3 linked regions of the Homo sapiens genome follow. The protein of the gene in region 2 purifies or fractionates together with the protein of the main gene of each other region. This does not show direct contact. Each region holds a gene or a part of one and is shown on either strand. Other genes may lie near its edges. The genes, in order: ANGEL2, CDO1 and RERE.

Region 1 (3,653 bases), on a different chromosome or scaffold from region 2:
TATCAAACACACAGCAGTTTGAGATATTTTTTCTATTTCCAGCTCTGTAAACAATCTTTAGAAGAAAATATAAATGAAATACTTAAGAATGTTAAGGGTAATTTGTGGTTGACAACTACATAAGAAACTCATCCAGCAACCATTCTGTAGTTGCATAAAGCCAGAGACACCGGGCCACAGCCCTGTAGCAGTTTATAAGGTGAATGGAGAATAAATTAGTATAATTTAGTCCCAGATAGTCAGCACCCACAGAAGTGAAGATGACATGCTCTTTTTGAAATGCTGATCCATAACACTCTCCTGCCACCAAGTGAACTTCTGTCAGCATGACAACTACGAAAACCTTACTATAAATTCAAAGCAGCAGGCATATTTTTTGTAGAGTAGATCTAGTGGCAGGAATAAGTCATCTCGTGAGTGTTACTAATAAGGTTATTCCCAGAAGAAAGGAGGGGGGAACAAACAGAGGGGAAAAGGGTAAAGAAAAAGAAGCATCCAAAAAAATGGAAGAGAAAAAAATGAAAAAAATCAGAAAAGAATAAAACAGCTGCTCACATTCCAAAGTTTTCTTAAAGGTATTTTTGTACTTCCAGTAATCTTAAACTGCATTTTCTTCTCCACTTTAAATCCTTTGGCTAATGTTTAAAACCTGATTTTCGGCCGGGCACAGTGGCTCACGCCTGTAATCCCAGCACTTTGGGAGGCCGAGGCAGGCAGATCATGAGGTCAGGAGATCGAGACCATCCTGGCCAACACGGTGAAATCCCGTCTCTACTAAAAATACAAAAAATTAGCCGGGCATGGTGGCGGGCGCCTGTAGTCCCAGTGGCTCGGGAGGCTGAGGCAGGAGAATGGTGTGAACCTGGGAGGCGGAGCTTGCAGTGAGCTGAGATAGCGCCACTGCACTCCAGCCTGGGCGACGAGCGAGACTCCGTCTCAAAAACAAACAAACAAAAAAATTATATAGACTTTTCTGACCGAATGTGGTGGCTCATGCCTGTAATCCAAGCCACCCTGGGAGGCCGAGGTGGACGGCTTGAGCCCAGGAGTTTGAGACCAGCCTGGGCAACACGGTGAAACCCTGTCTCTACAAAAAATACAAAAATTAGGTGGGCATGGTGGCTCATGCCTGTAGTCTTAGCTACTCGGGAAGCTGAGGTGGGAAGGTCACTTGAACCCGGGAGACAGAGGTTGCAGTAAGCCGAGAATCATGCCACTGCACTCTAGCCTGGGTAACAGAGCGAGACTCTGTATCCAAAAAAAAAAAAAAAAAATATATATATATATATATATATATATATATACTTTTCCTCCTCAGAAAAATCCAATATTCCAGAGTCAACATGACAGCATAAGCTGTGTTGCTGGCAGTGTAACTATGGTCCTCCAATGAAGGCAGGACGCCTCGGTAAAATTTAAGCACAAAACTATGATGACCATTAACAACATACTCAGTTCCTGTCACAGGAAAAACAGTAAATTTATGGCAAGCAAAAAGAAAGGGCAATATGAAAGACCTATAACTCAGAGGCTGACTGGAACTGGAGGGTAGGACTGCTAATGTAATTCTTGGGTAATAATTTGCTTGGATGTGTTTTATTGCCTCCCTCATATGCAAGTAATCAACTGATTTATTCAAATATATTACCAATCTGTCTATTTCGAAATATTTTTACCTTCTAGATCTAGAACTTCAACTGGATGTTTAGAGAGCTTTCTTAACTTTAACCTTGAGGTTTTAGCTACTGTGCTCTCTAGGAGAATTTAAGATTACATGCATTCCTTACCTGGGTGCCCAGCAACATCTTCCTTTTCTGCAGAGTAGAAAATATAATCCACAGTTATGGCACTTCGGGAATGACAGGTGGTCACTTCTGGAATTCCAGTGTCAGGAAAGTAATGTGAATAAACAGATGACAAACTGAAATGGTGCTGTAAATTTGAAGACAATCTAAATAGAAAAGAAGAAGTGTTTAGAATCCGAGTTTTTGTAACTTCAAGAATTCCTCCTATCTGAATTTCTTTTTCACTTAATTTCTAGACTAAGACCAAACATTAGGACAAGCTTTATTTAAAAAGACCATATCATAATTTAGTATTAATTTACTTATGCAGTGATATCTAAAACCCATCAATAAAGCCATTATAAATGTGGTTTTTAAAAAAAGCTCAATAATTAACATACTAATGTGTTTTTTCATTATTTATAACGTGTGAATGCCTCCACTTACTAAAGAACATGTATTCTAACAAGTTTTATTGTGTTTTTAAGAAAGAGAATCAAGGGGGTCTTCAGGAACACTATTTGGAATCCTCTAGACTTTTGATGACAGAGAGGCCATATTCTTCTCTAATTTTTCTTGCTATCACATATAATTTTGTACTGCATCTTAAAACAGCTTCTCTAATGGTTTATTATATTTGCCCCATGCACAAATATATGTGATGTTATGAGTAAAAGGTTTAAAGACTATTTTCTAGTGATACTTTATGAATCTTAAGGATCTTTTATGCCTTGAAGGAAAATAAAATTAAAAAAGAAACTTATCCAACAAACATTTACCAAACATCTTCTAAGTTCTAGGCAATATGTCAGGTGCTGAGAATACATAGATGAAGATGTTTCCCTTGCTTTTAAAGTGTTCATATGTCAGGAACAAAGGTAAATCCTTAAAAATGCCCTCTAAGTTTTATTAGCAACTTTTTATGTCTAAGGATTTATAATATTAAACATAAAATAGGGCCGGACGCGGTGGCTCACACCTGTAATCCCAGCACTTTGGGAAGCCAAGGCGGGAAGATTGCTTGAGCTCAGGAGCTCGAGACCAGCCTGGGCAACACAGTGAGACCTCATCTCTACAAAAAAAAAAAAAAAATCTAGAAAAGTAGCTACGCGTGGAGGCACATGCCTGTGGTCTCAGCTACTTGGCAGACTAAGGTAGGAGAAAGGCTTGAGCCTGGGAGGTGGAGGCTGCAGTGAGCCAAGATCATGCCACTGCACTCTAGCCTGGATGACAGTGAGATCAACTCTCAAATAAAAATAATAAATAAAAATAGGTCTTCTGCAAACTCTTATCTATCAATTTTTCAGTTTACAGATATAAGCTATGCATATAAACACTCTGTATTTACATAAAGATACAAAAAAGTATCTTTTTTTTTTTTTTTTTTTGAGACAGAGTCTTGCTCTGTCGCCCAGGCTGGAGTGCAGTGGCATGATCTCAGCTCACTGCAACCTCCACCTCCCAGGTTCACACCATTCTCCTGCCTCAGCCTCCCGAGTAGCTGGGACTACAGGCGCCCACCACCACACCTAGCTAATTTTTTTTTTTGTATCTTTAGTAGAGACGCGGTTTCACCGTGTTAGCCAGGATGGTCTCAATCTCCTGACCTCATGATCCGCCCGCCTCAGCCTCCTAAAGTGCTGGGATTACAGGCGTGAGCCACCGCGCCCGGCCTCTTTTTTTCTTTTAATTTTTAGACACCAAGGGCAAGTAAGGTATCTATTTTTTAAAATTATTATCATTATTGAGACGGAGGCTTGCTTTGTCACCCAGGCTGGAATGCGGTGGTGCGATCTCGGCTCACTGCAACCTCTGCCCCCCAGGGTTCAAGCAATACTCTGCCTCAGCCTACCTGGGATTACACGTGCA
Region 2 (3,653 bases):
TAATTAGAATTGAACTTGCAGTTAAAGATAGTAAGTGACACGCATGCATTAGCCTCTGCTCCTTCCTGAAAACCCTCTCCAATGGCAGTAAAAAAATAAAAAAGACATCAATATACAAAGACAAAATAGGAAAAGAGAAAACACTAACAAAAATTTGAAAGCTTAGAAAGTAAGATGGATAGCTTTACAGAGCAGAGAAAGCTAAATCCTAAGCTATCCATGGAGAAAACCAAGAAATAACCTGATTTATATCTTGAAACTCCAAATAGCACAGGAATTGACAGCACCAGGTACTTCTGGAAATGAGGGTAAAGATAGGCTGTAGATATAAGAACTGGTTTAAAGCTTGTTTATGAAGTAGAGTCTCAAAACCCTTTTACCAATTCTCTCTCTTCTTTCTTTTCAGCAGCAGAGTAAGGTCTAGTCTCTAGAAAGAGTGTAAGAGATCAACTTGGGACTGATGGAAATCAGGTGAAAAACAGGTGAATTAAACAAAAGCTTCCATACTGAATGGTAAAAATCCCTGCTTTAGTCATCACCTAGCTGCGAGAATGCTGCCAGACAAGATTTTTCTTTCCAGGCAGAAGATAGGAAGCAACTTCTCAGAGAATCTGATTGGCTCAAGAAAAAAGCTTTAAAGATATTGTCGCTGGAAGTTCCTGAAGAAAAAGTCTCTGCCAGACTATCAAAAAGTGAAATCCAGTTGACAAGCTCCACTCATGTTCAGGGTTACCAATTAATTTTTTTGTTCTTGGTTTTTAAATATTAGCACATTGCCAAGGTCACCAGACATTTGAGCAAGGCCTCTAGTATGAAAGACAGAGGGCAGAGCAAACAAAAAAGCAACCTGCAACAGAGACTACTCAGGGGAAGTGTTCAAAAACCTATCATTAATGTTTTCCTAGAAATAAGAGAAAATACCATAAAAGGGACCATAAAACAAAAAGAGGTTGAAGAAACAGAAACCAGAAAAGGGTTGGCAGGAAATGCTGAGGAAGACTCAAAGAACAAAAGGACAAAGACAGAAAATAGAAAAGAAAGAGAAAAAAAAAAAAGAGGAACAGTTCAAGAGGTTTAATATCTAAATAGGAGTTTCAGAAACAGAATTAAAAAAAAATTCAAAGAAATAACCTGTTAATGTTTTCCTGAGTCGAAGGACACGAATTCCCAGATTTAAAAACCCACTGAGTACCCAGCACAATGAATGAGTCATCAAACAAGATACATCACTGTGAAATTTCAGAATACTGAGGATAGAGAGAAGGCACCAAAAGAGAAGATCCCAAAAGTTTCTAGAAAGAAAATAGAAAGATTCAAAAATCAGAATGGGACCAGGTTTTTTTAAAAAAAAACAAAAAAAACAAAAACAGGGTCTCATTCTGCTGTCCATGCTGAAGTATAGCAGTGGGATCTTGGCTCATTGTAGCCTCCACCTCCCGGGCTCAAGTGATCCTCCCACTTAGCTTCCCAAGTATCTGGGACTACAGGCACCTGCCACCATGCCCAGCTAATTTTTGTATTTTTGGTAGAGATGGGGTTTCAACATGTTGTCCAGGCTGTTCTTGAACTCCTGGGCTCAAGCAATTCTTCCATCTTAGCCTCCCAAAGTGCTGGGATTACAGGTGTGAGTCACCACACCCGGCCAGCCCTAGGCTTTTGATAAGAACACTAGAAACTAAAAGACAAAGGAATTACCCTCATGGTTCTGAGGGAAGATGTTTATCAGGTGATAATCCATAACCCAGCTAAATTATCAATCAAGTTGTAGGAGTTGAATATAGAGATATTTAAATATATGGGGTCTCAAAAATTTACCTTCCATGGATCCTTTCTTGTGGAGCCATTGGAGCATATGCTCCACCAAAACAAGGGCATCAACCAAGAATGAAAAAAAATCATGAGATCAGTAAAGAGGGGATCCAGCCACAGGAAACAGCAAAGGGAAAGCTTGAGAGAATGTAAGCCTTACATTGTAAGGAATCTCAGGATCACAGCTCACCCCTGGCCTAGAGATCAACGAATCTGTGCTGAAGCAGTCAAGAGGCCCTGGGAGAGAGATCTTCAAGAAGATTAAACACACACACACACAAAAACAAAACAAAACAAACAAAACAAAAAAACGAGATGAAATACTCAATTAAAAAATGTTAATAAACTTACACAGTTACAAGAAAGTTTCAGGGATTAATCAAGTAATGAATTTAGCATAACTAATGTAGGCACCCCATGAGGCTTTGTGCTTTCTTCTTTATGATCTAGCTCCATGAGTGCACATCATAAAGAAGAATGAAGCATAGAACCAGAAGACTTAAGTTCTACTTCTAGGTAATTAGCGATGCTATCTTTGAACAAGCCACACATTCTAGGATCTTTCATTTTCCTTATTTCTAAAACTGGTGCCTAATTCTCAGATCTGCAAATTCTTTGATCCTGTAGCTTGTTGTGTTCATAATATACTGGCTAAAGCACAGTTTTGAACAAATGTTCAACACTGCAGGTCCACGCATCATCTAATGCATGCTGACAATCCTGCAAGCAAAGACCCTGCAAAAACAAGACACCCATCCTTTAGAGAAGCTCCTATTAATAATCCAGGCATTATTATTATATTTTGATCTTTGCTTCTTTTTCCTTTATGGTCATGGTGTACCCTCTGTCACAGTAATACTGGACTTTTCTTGGGGGTATTTATGAAGCAGAGTTAGGTCCAGGCCCGGTCGACCTTTTGCTCATTACAATAGGCAACTTGGTCTCCTTGCCCCAGTCCTCCCTTCTCCTCCACCCTATGTTGCATGCTGCCACCAAATCGATCAAGATATTCCCAATTATAACTCTGCTGACCAAAGAAAGTCCTTACTTTTAGCTGGTCTTGCAGGCCCATACCCTGAGCTCACTTTACTCTCCTGCTAATCCACTGACCAAACCCATTCTTCTTTCTTTCCTTCCCCCAATGCTTGAATAGTTTCCATTTTTTACAACAATTGTACCTTCACTTGTGCTCTTCCTTGTACTTGCAACATCCTTCCCCCTGATCACTATCCATCTCCACCCCTACTCCTGCATCTGTAAGAATCAGAGGTTGAAAATTTGTGGCTTTTAAGTTATTTGGGTAATTAGTCTACAGAAATAATTAACATATCCCACCGAATATTTTAATAATTGGCAAAATTTCATATAAAACCCAGAATTTCCAACTTCTATGGAAAAAGAAACCAGGTTGATCTCACTGGAGCTGGGTGGCCACTGCTGTCACCTTAATATGAGGCTTGTATACTCCAGTTCATACCAGGCCTCACCACAGCTTTATCCCTGATGTATACCACTTCCTTATCTGTTGAGATTCTATAGGTTTTTGCATTGAAGACCTTTAAAAAGCTTACCTATTCTTAAAGATCTGATCTATTTTCACAAGCACTCTGACTCCAGCTGAAAGTAATTATTCTGAAAGGTGTGTGAATGCTTTACTTCTGAAATTATTCTGAAAGCTTTACTGTGAATGTACAGACAACAGAATTTTCTTGGAAATCTGGTGTGCCTTATAGATAGCAACCCTCACATTATTTGGGTAAATGAATCAGAGCTTCCTGCCACATAGGAAACTAACATCCTTGTGTTATGTGAATGAGCGACAACTTCCCATACAATTTGATCTT
Region 3 (3,653 bases), on a different chromosome or scaffold from region 2:
GAGCTTGCAGTGAGCCAAGATCGCGCCACTGCACTCCAGCCTAAGCAACAGAGCGAGACTCCACCTCAAAAAAAAAAAAAAAAAAAAAAGGGTTAACATGTTTTGTTCCTTTCCCATGATTTAGATGTGCGTACGCCCTAAACAAGCAATCTGTGGTAACTCTGAGAGATTCTTCAGTCACTAAGAAATTCTTACTGCCCAATAGCTGAGTCTACATCAAAGATAAATACAGACAGTACTGTAACCTACACACATCATTTAATCGTTACAGCAGATTTCTAACTGCTCTAAAACCTCCACTCTGATCAATTTATATCACACAAATACCTTCTCAGTTAATCTCCAACCAAGAAATTGTAGCTGTGAATGCAAATTTGTCTGTATTAAGTTCTAGCACTGACTTTTTTTTTTTTTGCGGGGGGGAGGGGTGGAGACAGGGTTTTGCTCTGCTGCACAGGCTGCAGTGCTATGATGTGAACGGGGCTTACTGCAGCCTTGCCCTCCTGAGCTCAAGGGATTCTTCTACCTCAGCCTCCTGAGTAGCTGGGACTGCAGTCTCATCACACTCCCAGCTAATTTTTTACTGTTTTGCAGAGATACGGTCTCACTATGTTGCCCAGGCTGGTCTCCACACTACTCAAGCAATCCTCCCGCCGCCTCAGCCTCTCAAAGTGCTGGGATTACAGTCATGAGCCACCGTGCCCAGCCCCACTGACATCTTTTGAAATTTAAAAAACTCCTGTGTGGGAGAATGAAAATCTGGAACTTGACGTGAAGTTCATAACAGTAACAGCATTCCTCAGTAAAATGATTGTTCCAGATTATGGACATAACACAGTGAAGTATTTTAATCTCCTTCTCAGAAAAACATAAAAATGGGCAGCTTTAATCTGCTAATTACATCTCATACAAAATTCATGTCACTCTTCAACAGTAAAAGTAACTCAAACAAAATGATTTCACCTAGGTTTTACTGGCTTCTGTAAGAAAGGATCTTGTTTTGTTTTTTTTTGTTTTTTTTTTTGAGACAGGGTCTTGCTCTGTTGCCCAGGCTAGAAAGCAGTGGTGCAATCATGCTTCACTACAGCCTCGACCTCCCAGACTCAAGTGATGCTCCTGCCTCAGCCTCCTGAATAGCTGGGACTACAGGTGTGTGCCACCAGGCCCAGCTAATTTGTAAAAATTTTTTGTAAAGATGGGGGTCTCACTACGTTGCCCAGGCTGGTCTTGAACTCCTGAGCTCAAGCAATCCTTCTGTCTCCGCCTCCCAAAGTGCTGGGATTACACTGTGCCCAGCCTAAAAAAGGTGTCTTAATACACACAATACATCAAATGAAAAGGAAAGGCTTTGCTAGTGTTCAACAGGTTTTGACTCACTTGTTTCCCTGATCTCATCTAAAAGTTGAGTCTGTCTTTTTTTGAGCAATGCTATAAGCCACAATATACTGGTGTGACCATAATACATTTTCTGGAAAACCAAGCAGGTTAGATGACTACTTCTATTATTGTTGATTAGAGAGCCTGAAGCTCAAATTTTTGGAAAAGGAAGTTAGCAGGAGCAATACATCTCTGATCTTCAGGGCTTTTTTTTTTTTCTGAGACGGAGACTCGCTCTGTTGCCCAGGCTGGAGTGCAGTGGTGTGATCTCGGCTGACTGCAACCTCCACCTCCTGGGTTCAAGCAATTCTCCCGTCTCAGCCTCCCAAGTAGCTGGGATTAGAGGTGCACACCACCGAGCCCAGCTAATTTTTGTATTTTTAGTAGAGACAGGGTTTCATCATGTTGGTCAGGCTGGTCTCGAACTCCTGACCTCAGGTCACCACCCGCCTCAGCCTCCCAAAGTGCTAGAATTGCAGGCGTGAGCCACCATGCCTGGCCTAAAGGCCATTTTTAAAAAGTACCTCTCTAGAGTCTGGTCGATCCTGTCCCAAGGTAAAATTTCCTGTTTCCAAGAATCTTAAGGTTTACTTGTCTCCACCAAGCAGTCAATTCTGCAGGGTCACCACAGTCTCATTTATGATTGAAGATTAAAAAGCAAGCATGAATTCAAAAGACAAAAAAATACTAAGCAGATGGTCCAGTTAGAGAACAAGCAGCACAGGAAAATAAGAAAAGAACTCATGAATGCATAAACCAGGACACAAGAGCAAATTAAGGCAGACACAAGCAAGAAGTGGGTGAACCTAACTGACCAAAAGTGGGTCACATGTTTACCAAATTAAGTTTCCTACTCTTCTAGATTCCAAGCCTTCCTTAAAGTGTACAAAGCGTATTTATTTCACCATAATGCCAAGATCATTCCCCCACTGTAAACATTGGCAAGACCCAAACGTAAGGCTCCTTACCTCCTGGTCTGTAGACCACATCATCTTCAGTGATGTAGGATGTTATCTCACCGGTATCTGTCCTTTCATAACGAGACTTTTTTTTCGGTGGTTTCTTCTTATTCTTCTTCGTGGACTCCTCTGCGGTGGCACTATTGTTGTCATTGTCCTCGTCTTCACTGTGATCACTCTCAGCATAATTTTTGGCTCCTCCTTCCAAGGTACAGCTCCGGCGTGGCCTTGAATTCTCACTCTCTCTTGCTTTGTCTCTTTTCTCTCTCTCTCGGTCCCGGTCTCGGTCCCGGTCCTTCTCTTTGTCTTTGTCTTTGTCTTTGTCCGCTGTCATGATTCGCCACGTGCCTTCTTCTGTCCTCTCACGGCTAGGCCTCCGTGAAAGGTAGACAGTAAGCCTGGGCTTCAGTCTTCTGAATTTCTCACTCAATTCCAGGGAAAATCCAACCACTCCAACAACCCCAACGTTTCAAAAATGCTAGGAGAGAAAAAAGAATGGTTTTAACGCTTTTTCATATTTGTTTCCTAAAATAATGTTTTGTTAAATGAATCTCTTACTTATTCATGCTTTACACCTAAAAACTTCGCACAAGCCACAGGAGAAAAATTAAGTGTTAAAATTTAAAAACTACAGTTTTTGGTCTCAGCAAATGGTTTGGGGTTTTTTATGACACCAATAATAAAAACTGTCTGAATGCCTAAGAGTAAACTACACTTCCTCCACCTTACATGTTTTCTCCTTTTTAAAGAAAAAGCAAACCAATACCCTGGTAGACAACATATAATGGGTATTATTATACAAAAGGAGCTTCATAACTCATAATATTAATTTAAAGAGGAAAGAATCTGTAGTAAAAATTATTTCCAGGCCAGGCACTGCGGCTCATGCCTTGTAATCCCAGCATTTTGAGAGGCCAAGCCAGAAGGACCACTTGAAGCCAGGAGTTCAAGACCAACCCTGGCAACAAAGCGAGATCCCATCTCCAACATAAAATAAAATATTTCTACCTGAAAAAATAGTAATAGTTTGCAGCACTGTCAAAAATGTCTCAGGATAGGCCGGGCGCGGTGGCTCACGCCTGTAATCCCAGCGCTTTGGGAGGCCGAGGAAGATGGATCACGGGGTCAGGAGATCAAGATCATCCTTGCTAATGTGGTAAAACCCTGTCTCTACTAAAAAATACAACAAAAATTAGCTGGGTGTGGTGGCGGGCGCCTGTAGTCCCGGCTACTCAGGAGTCTGAGGCAGGAGAATGGCGTGAACCCAGGAGACGGAGCTTGTAGTGAGCCGAGATTGTGCCACTGCACTTCAGCCTG

Evidence for each region.
Region 1: the proteins of CDO1 (region 2) and ANGEL2 fractionate together in Homo sapiens (co-fractionation; one large-scale study listed by BioGRID). This does not show direct contact.
Region 3: the proteins of CDO1 (region 2) and RERE purify together in Homo sapiens (affinity purification with mass spectrometry; 2 studies listed by BioGRID and IntAct, with this or other methods). This does not show direct contact.

Annotation. Positions count from the first base shown.
Region 1 is NC_000001.11:212,995,368-212,999,020, forward strand, and holds part of ANGEL2 (protein angel homolog 2), read right to left. Parts: intron 1,952-3,653; coding exon 1,788-1,951; intron 1-1,787.
Region 2 is NC_000005.10:115,806,635-115,810,287, forward strand, and holds part of CDO1 (cysteine dioxygenase type 1), read right to left. Parts: intron 3,064-3,653; exon of another isoform or gene 2,988-3,063; intron 2,060-2,987; exon of another isoform or gene 1,816-2,059; intron 1-1,815. UniProt on the Homo sapiens protein: Catalyzes the oxidation of cysteine to cysteine sulfinic acid with addition of molecular dioxygen.
Region 3 is NC_000001.11:8,653,628-8,657,280, forward strand, and holds part of RERE (arginine-glutamic acid dipeptide repeats protein), read right to left. Parts: intron 2,815-3,653; 5' UTR 2,671-2,814; coding exon 2,346-2,670; intron 1-2,345. UniProt on the Homo sapiens protein: Plays a role as a transcriptional repressor during development. May play a role in the control of cell survival. Overexpression of RERE recruits BAX to the nucleus particularly to POD and triggers caspase-3 activation, leading to cell death.